Linked DNA regions of Homo sapiens. The protein of the gene in region 1 purifies or fractionates together with the protein of each later gene. This does not show direct contact. Each region holds a gene or a part of one and is shown in the gene's direction. Other genes may lie near its edges.

Region 1 (4,023 bases):
GAGCTTCCACTTTCTGGAGCAGGCATGTCCCAACCCCACCTCAGGGCCTTTGCACTGGCTGTTCCCCACTGCCTGGGGCTTCTCAACCTCTCCAGTCTCATAGAGACCACCCTGACCAGGGTCCAGTGGTCTCTCTCTAGCCCCTGTTCTATTTCACTTCCAAAAGAGTGAGCATAACTCCCTGACCCTAATTTTTGATCGTAACCTACCATCCCCTACACACATTGTGTAGGAATGGACTATGGAGTTCCATAGAACCAGCCACATGTGCCACAGGATACTTGAAATGGGGCCAGTCCAAAATTACTTCTGGTCTAAGTGTTAAAAATACACAGGGAATTTCAAAGATTTACAAAACCAAAAAAAAAAAAAACAAAAAAAAAAAAAACATAAACGATCTCATTAATAATTGTTCCCATTAGCTGAAATCACATTGTGGCTATATAAGGTTAAATAAATATTTTAAACATTACTTTCACCCATTTATTCTCATCTTTTAAAATGCATCTACTAGAAATTTTCAATTGCTCGTGAGTTCGTGTCACATGTCTGTTGGGCAGCAGCTCTGCAATGTCACCTCTATGGCTCATCATCCAGGTTCCGTCTTCAAGCCCTAGACCTCCTGGCACGGGGAGTAGCTGGTGATAGGTTTGCTTATTGAATAATGAATTATGAAAAGAGAATCCAGTGACCTTTTCCAAAAAGGTTAATTCCCTTAAATTTGGCAAAGAAATTCTCCACATTAGGGTATGGACAGGGTCTTCTGGAACTTTCTGAAATAATCTCCCTGTTCCAGAGATTCAGAGACTGTGACCAAGTGCTCCTGGATGCCCCTGATATCTGAAGACCCTGGGAGGCCAAGCCCTGTATTTTTCCCCTTTCTGAGCAAACAGGAAGTCACATAGCTTTCACAGTCAAAGGACCAGTGTCACCTCTGTGGAGACCTGGGTGACTCAAGCTTGGGAGCACTGGGGAAGAGAGGCATGGCTCGGGGAGGCTGCAGTGAGGACTGGAGTGGGGAGGAGGGGGAGATGGAGGAGGAGGCCTGGGAGGGGCAGGGGGAACTTAGGCAGGGAGGGAGCTTGTAGTAGCGGGGGAGTGAAAAGAGAGATGGAGAAAGAGGGGATGGGAAGAAAGAGGAGGAGGAGTCAGGGGTGGGGCATGGAGGTGGGTGGGGCTGGGCTGCCAAAGCAGGATAAATGCACACCTGCCTGCTGGTCTGGGCTCCCTGCCTCGGGCTCTCACCCTCCTCTCCTGCAGCTCCAGCTTTGTGCTCTGCCTCTGAGGAGACCATGGCCCAGTATCTGAGTACCCTGCTGCTCCTGCTGGCCACCCTAGCTGTGGCCCTGGCCTGGAGCCCCAAGGAGGAGGATAGGATAATCCCGGGTGGCATCTATAACGCAGACCTCAATGATGAGTGGGTACAGCGTGCCCTTCACTTCGCCATCAGCGAGTATAACAAGGCCACCAAAGATGACTACTACAGACGTCCGCTGCGGGTACTAAGAGCCAGGCAACAGGTAGGTGCTCCCTCCACCCCAGGGGTCCTGGGTCCCAGCCTGGTTTGTTCCCCAACCCCCAAGAGCATTCCCAGCAAATCAACACTGATACATTCATGATCTAATGCTCAGATTCATTCAGCTTTCCCTGGCTCTCCGCTGATGCCCTTCATGCCTAAGCACGCTCCCCGGCCGTGCACAAACTCAGCTTCCTTTAACCTGCAGCAGCCACTGTGTCTGTACCATGACTGTGGCATTTCCCAGGGTCCAGCAGGTGTGGATGGAGACTGTGCTTACTCTGGGTGGGCTTGATGCTGCTCAGGATGAGATCCAGGCCATGAGGTTCATACTCCTCCCTGAGTCCTCTCTGCAGGGGCCACACAGGAACCTGGCTCACTGTTCTGCAGAGCCCTGCTTCCCCAAGTCACGCCCCTGGGCACAGCCCCTTATGGCTAGCGGCCTTCACCCTCAGGCCGGCTGACAAACCCCTACAGCCCAGGGCGCTGAGTCCCTGCTGGGGTGGAGCATGCCTGACCCTGCCTCTACCAGCTGATGCAGTTAGACCTCAGCCAGATGAGGACAGTGGTCACCCAGCAGAGCAGAGGAGGGGTCAGGTCGGGAGGGAGCTTCAGCAGGGCAACTGGGCCCAGCTTGACCTGCATCCCATGGCACAGCAGCAAATAGTGACACAGTCTTTAGAGCTCCTCCACCTTCTCCTGGAAATTCAAAGGAATCCCCACCAGCCCCGTTTCTCCTCTTGCAGCTGTCAGCTGGGGCTCTCTCCCTGCATACGAGATACACTCCCTGGTGCCGTGGTCCCCGCTGGCCTGCATCTCCCTTTCAAGCATGACAGTAACTTGGAGTGAAGCACAGGGCATTGCAGACCATCAGGCCCAGAAGCCTATTTTAGACATGGGTAAACTGACACTCGAGGGATCTCAGCAGTTCCTCCTGGTTCCAGAGAGTCCCTCATCCCAGGTTTCTCCACAGCTCTGCCACATTGTGTCTGGGAAAGGCCCTATGCAGGGAAAGGGTTCAATTCTAATCTGCAACTGTAAGACACGCAGGTGTGCTGCTGACTTGAGAAATGTATCTTGAATCTCACACTTGAAATGGTGGCATCCGGGCGGCCCCATTGATCCAAAATATCTGTGTGTGTGAAGCATCTCATTTCCTACTCTGAGTGAAGTAATAAATCTATGTTAAATGGAGGGAATAAGATTTTCAGAAGTTAGGTGAAATTTTGTCATCAGACAGACTTCCTAGAAAAGAGTCAGTGTTCCCTCGCCCCTGAGCCACAGACAGCAGAATTCAATGAATCCTTTTACCCAGCACAGAGAAAGCAATGTTTAAGAGCGGGTATGAGGCTCAGCACCCTGCCAGTTGACAGGAAGAGGGGGCTTGTGTGCCTTGTGTTGACATGTGGGCAGCTCACGAAGCCCCCAAGCAAGTCCAGTGACTCAGCCACAGTGAAGTGCCTGTGAGTGCATGAACTGATGGGGGCGCTGTCCTGTTTTCTCCTGTGTGCAGACCGTTGGGGGGGTGAATTACTTCTTCGACGTAGAGGTGGGCCGCACCATATGTACCAAGTCCCAGCCCAACTTGGACACCTGTGCCTTCCATGAACAGCCAGAACTGCAGAAGGTACGTTCCTGATGCAGGTCCCGGGCCAGTCATGCACTGCAGAGGGGTGCGTATGTGTCAGCCTCTGCCCTACACATGTTTGGAGGGTGTGTGTGTGCAGGTGGGTATGTGGGGAGCCGTGTATGCATGGATGTGTACGTGTTCATGTACTTATGGGGGGGTGTGCATGTAGGTGTGCATGTGGAAAGGTGCACGTGTGTACACACCTGTGCCAGTGTGTGCAGGGAGGTGGATGGGAGCATGTGTGCCTGTGCATGGATGTGTGGGGGGTGTATGGGGCTTTGTACATAGATCCATGGGGATGAGGGGTCCAAGTGAGTTTACGTAGTTGTCCATGTATGTGCAGATGGGGTGGTGAGGGAGGAGGGTGATGTGTTTGATTTGCTAGGAAGGCTTTAGGTTGGGAATGGTTACTATAAGGTCAATTCTGCCTGCTTTGGAGTGTTGCCTGTTGGACAGGAAGAAGCAGCTGTGCGGCTGTGTGCTGGGCAGGGAGAAGGGGCTCTGTCTAATCCCAGCCTCAGGCACCTGCATGCAGCCACAGCCACAGTGATCAGATTAGTGGGACCTAGAGGCCTGTTAGCTGGGAAGCCCTGGACCTGCCCGGCTCACCCAACACCAGCCTCTCCAAGGACCTGCTGGTTCTTGTGAGGTCTCCACTCAGGGGAGAGCCACACTCCCCTTGTTGCCCTTGCCCCATGCCCCAGCTCTTTGAGGGGGAGTTGCCCTGCCCTGGGTTCTTCCCTCTGGCCCCTCTTAGTGCTGGCCTGGGTGCTGGAGGTGGAAGGAGCTGGGGGAACTGAGCTGCCTCCCCATGCCCTGCACCCTTGGGGCTCCCGAGGCCTTGCCCAGGCTACTCCTCACAGGGCTGTGCTGGGAC
Region 2 (3,500 bases), on another chromosome or scaffold:
TGAGTTTCCTCAGGCCGGGTGAGGCCCCTCCTCAGGCTCCCACCACACACCATGTGTGCCCACCTCTGCCAAAGCCAGCACAGGACCATCTGCTACCAGACCCTAAGCTCCTTGAGGACAAGGATGCTTTAATTCTCTCTGAAATTATCCCATCCCCCAGGCCCTGGCACATCTTGTTTTGTTTAGTAAATGTTATTGAACTGCGTGGGGAGGCTGAGACTTCGGGTCCATAACCTGTATTTCATGCCCTTTGCATCCTCAACAGGATGGTTATTGCAAGTTCCAACCTGGAAAGGCCATCGGCTTTGTCAAGGATGTAGCCAACATCACAATCGTGAGTGCCGATCCCCCTCTGGGATGGGGAATGTGTCCTGATGAGGAGGCCTCTCTCATGCTGTCGGATAGCCAGTGGGCCCAGCAAGGCAGCCCTTCTGGCAGCACATCCCTTTGACGAGTTCATATTATCCCTGGGTCTCAGTCGCTGTGATGGTGGCGAGGCAGGAGATGGGAGGGAGAGCGCAAACTGGCAGGCAGGCCCTCTGGTTCTGAACTCCAGATCCACACATGCCTTCATTCTTTTGGTTCTGTTTTCTTGCTTGTAAAATGCAAGCAATTGTCCGCATCCTGCAGAAGAGGGTATGAGCACGTGCTTGACACAGCGTGTGTGAAACTGAGGAGGGTGAGTGTGTGTCACTCAGGATGAGCCAGGTTCTGTTGCAATAACAACCGTGCCCAATCTGCATGGCTGACAACAGTCAAAGGGTGTGTGGCACTCCTGCGCCCATGCACAGCTTAGGGAGGGTGGTGTGTGCTCCGTGTCATTGGCCTCACGCCAGGACTAGAGGGAAAGAAGGTGGTAAATGATGCCCTAGCTCTAAAGCCAAAACAAGCCGCCCAGTCACAGTTGACCTCAAGTGAATAGGGAAGTGTGGTCTTACCCTGCTTCTCCCAGAGAGAACTGGAACGTGAATGAACGCCTTCGTGACTGCAGTGTGCATGCATGCAAGTGTGGGAGGGTGTGTGAGGAGTGGAGGAATATCGCTTAGGTTGTGTGTGCGCCCACGAATGTATGTACAGTTCACAAACGTGATGTCTGTGTAATGACAGCGGCTGCCATTTAGTTGAAGCATGTGCCAAGCTCTCAGCAATAACATCTTAACTTGATGGAGTACTTCTAGGTGCTGTACCAACCCTCAATACGCACTATCCCCTCTAGACCCGAACTGGCCCTAGGAGATGAGTATCCTTATTACCTCATTTGACAGGTGAGGAAACGGGGGCTCCAAGTGGTTAAGTAATGTGCCCAAGGCCACAGAGCTAGGAAATAGATGCTGGATTTGAACTAAGAATGTGTCATTCCAGAACCAGGGCTCATTGCCTTGACAACATACAGCGCAAATCCTGTACTCAGGATGTCACCCTCTTCAGAATGTTGCTGCTGTCACTCAAGCTGGCTGCTCTGGGCCATGATATCCCAAGGACAGGTGAATTTGGGCCTCAAAGGTATCCCTTTGCATGGTCCCCAGGAGAGCCTCATTGGTGACACCTGCAGGGCCCTGACGACCAGGCCAGAACTAGCATTCAGCCCTCTTGGGCAGGCCCATGGGGTGGAAATGGTGCCACCTGCAGAAGTCATCGCCCCTGTGCTGGGCTGGCCTCTGTGCCCTCCATGTCTCAGATATGCCCTGACCTGTTGGGCTCACAAGGCCTTGTCCACATACCAGGAAGGAGGGCACTCCCTTGCCAGGCACCTGTTTGCTTTTCACAGCTGGGTCTCTGTCCACCCCTCTAGGGAGGCAGGACTGAGGGAGGCTGGGCGCCCCGTCCCTCCTGCACTTGCTTTCCTTCAGTAGGGCCCTGGCCTCAGCACAGGTAACTTCCCCCCTCATTTCAGCTCCCAGAGGTCTCTTGGTTAGTGCACTTGAACCCAGCCACCCCCAACCCAGAAGCTCCAAAAAGTGCCAATGCCTGGGACCCACCCTGCAGATACTGTTGTAGTTGGTCTGAGGCACAGCCTGGACTTGGGGTTTTTTTAAGGTTCTGCATGGGGTTCTACCTGCTGCTGTCACCTGGTCTCTGCAGCTCTGTTCCAAAGCTGCAGCCTCCAGGAAGCCACCCTGACTTCCCCCCACCTACCTTCCCCCTTGGAGGGGACAGGTTCTACTCAGAAGTCACACAGCCCTCGGATGGGTCTTCTCGTTTCCACCGCCATCTGGGACCTACCCGTCCATGGTTTATAACCCCTGTGTTCTAGCAGCAAAGCTTTGTAGACTCTGGGTTTATGGGTGTAGGGGTGAGAGCTGCTGGCCCAGGAGAGGACCTCAGGGAATGGATGTGAATGACTGAATGAGTAGGTCCACGCTGTACCCCGTGGTCCCTATCTCAGAGGGTGCAGGGTTTCCTAGGAGCAGAGTTGGGGAGAGGAACGAGAGATGGCCAGACAGACCCAGCCAGAGACAGGAAGGGAGAGAGGCCGCAGGGGAGCTGCTTCTGGCCATCCATGCTGCTCTGGGCCTCTAGCCCCTAGCTTGAGGCAAAAGGCTGTACTGTGAAAGGAGTGGGGAGGTGACAGGCCATGTGTTTCTGTCTCGGTCCTGTTTCCACAGTATGACGAGGAAGCGATGGTGGAGGCTGTGGCCCTCTACAACCCTGTGAGCTTTGCCTTTGAGGTGACTCAGGACTTCATGATGTATAGAACCGGCATCTACTCCAGGTGAGTCAGGGTCCCAGGAGCCAGGAGGGACAGTGGGGAGGGGCTTGGTGGGCCTCCTCACACCCCACTCGTGGGACTTGGGCTCGTGGCCCAGACTCCTGTGTGTCAGACCCTTCATGACACCTGCCAGGTGCTGGGCGTTTTGCACATCCCTCAGTTAATCCTCACACAGCCCCAAGGGCCAGGAGCCATGGCCTCTTCTCACAGCAAAGGAGAGGTGGTCAGAAGGGATACGACAGACACAGGCCACCTGGCTAGTGAGAGCTAGGGCCAAAATTTGAGAGCTTTGTGCTCCTTAACAGAAGAGTTGCCTCCAGTTTAAAAAAAACCCATGTTCAGGCCAGGCGTGGTGGCTCATGCCTGTACTCCCAGCACTTTGGGAGGCCGAGGCAGGTGGATCACTTGAGGCCAGGAGTTCAAGACCAGCCTGGCCAACATGGCGAAACCCCATCTCTACTAAAAATACAAAAAAAAAAAAAAAGCCAGCGTGGTGGTGCATGCCTATAATCCCAGCTACTCGGGAGGCTGAGACACAAGAATGGCTTGAACCTAGGAGGTGGAAGTAGCACTAAGCCAAGATCGTGCCACTGCACTCCAACCTTGGTGACAGAGCAAAGCTCTGTCTCAGAAAAAAAAAAAAATACCCATGTTTAAAGATTTGAAGACGTAAAATAGGGAGAAGAGTAGCTGCCCTCACACACTAGGATCCTGTGCTGGAGGAGTCACCCCAGGCTTCTTCAGAAAAACCAAGCTTTAGCCTCTTTACTATGGGGTTTCTCTCACCCAC

The links. Proteins that work in one complex are often made in the same cells at the same time.
Region 2: the proteins of CST1 (region 1) and CTSH purify together in Homo sapiens (affinity purification with mass spectrometry; 2 studies listed by BioGRID and IntAct, with this or other methods). This does not show direct contact.

What each region holds. Positions count from the first base shown.
Region 1 is NC_000020.11:23,748,136-23,752,158, reverse strand, and holds the start of CST1 (cystatin-SN precursor), read left to right. Parts: upstream 1-1,223; 5' UTR 1,224-1,292; coding exon 1,293-1,520; intron 1,521-3,029; coding exon 3,030-3,143; intron 3,144-4,023. UniProt on the Homo sapiens protein: Human saliva appears to contain several cysteine proteinase inhibitors that are immunologically related to cystatin S but that differ in their specificity due to amino acid sequence differences.
Region 2 is NC_000015.10:78,924,547-78,928,046, reverse strand, and holds part of CTSH (pro-cathepsin H isoform a preproprotein), read left to right. Parts: intron 1-265; coding exon 266-334; intron 335-2,606; coding exon 2,607-2,713; intron 2,714-3,500. UniProt on the Homo sapiens protein: Important for the overall degradation of proteins in lysosomes.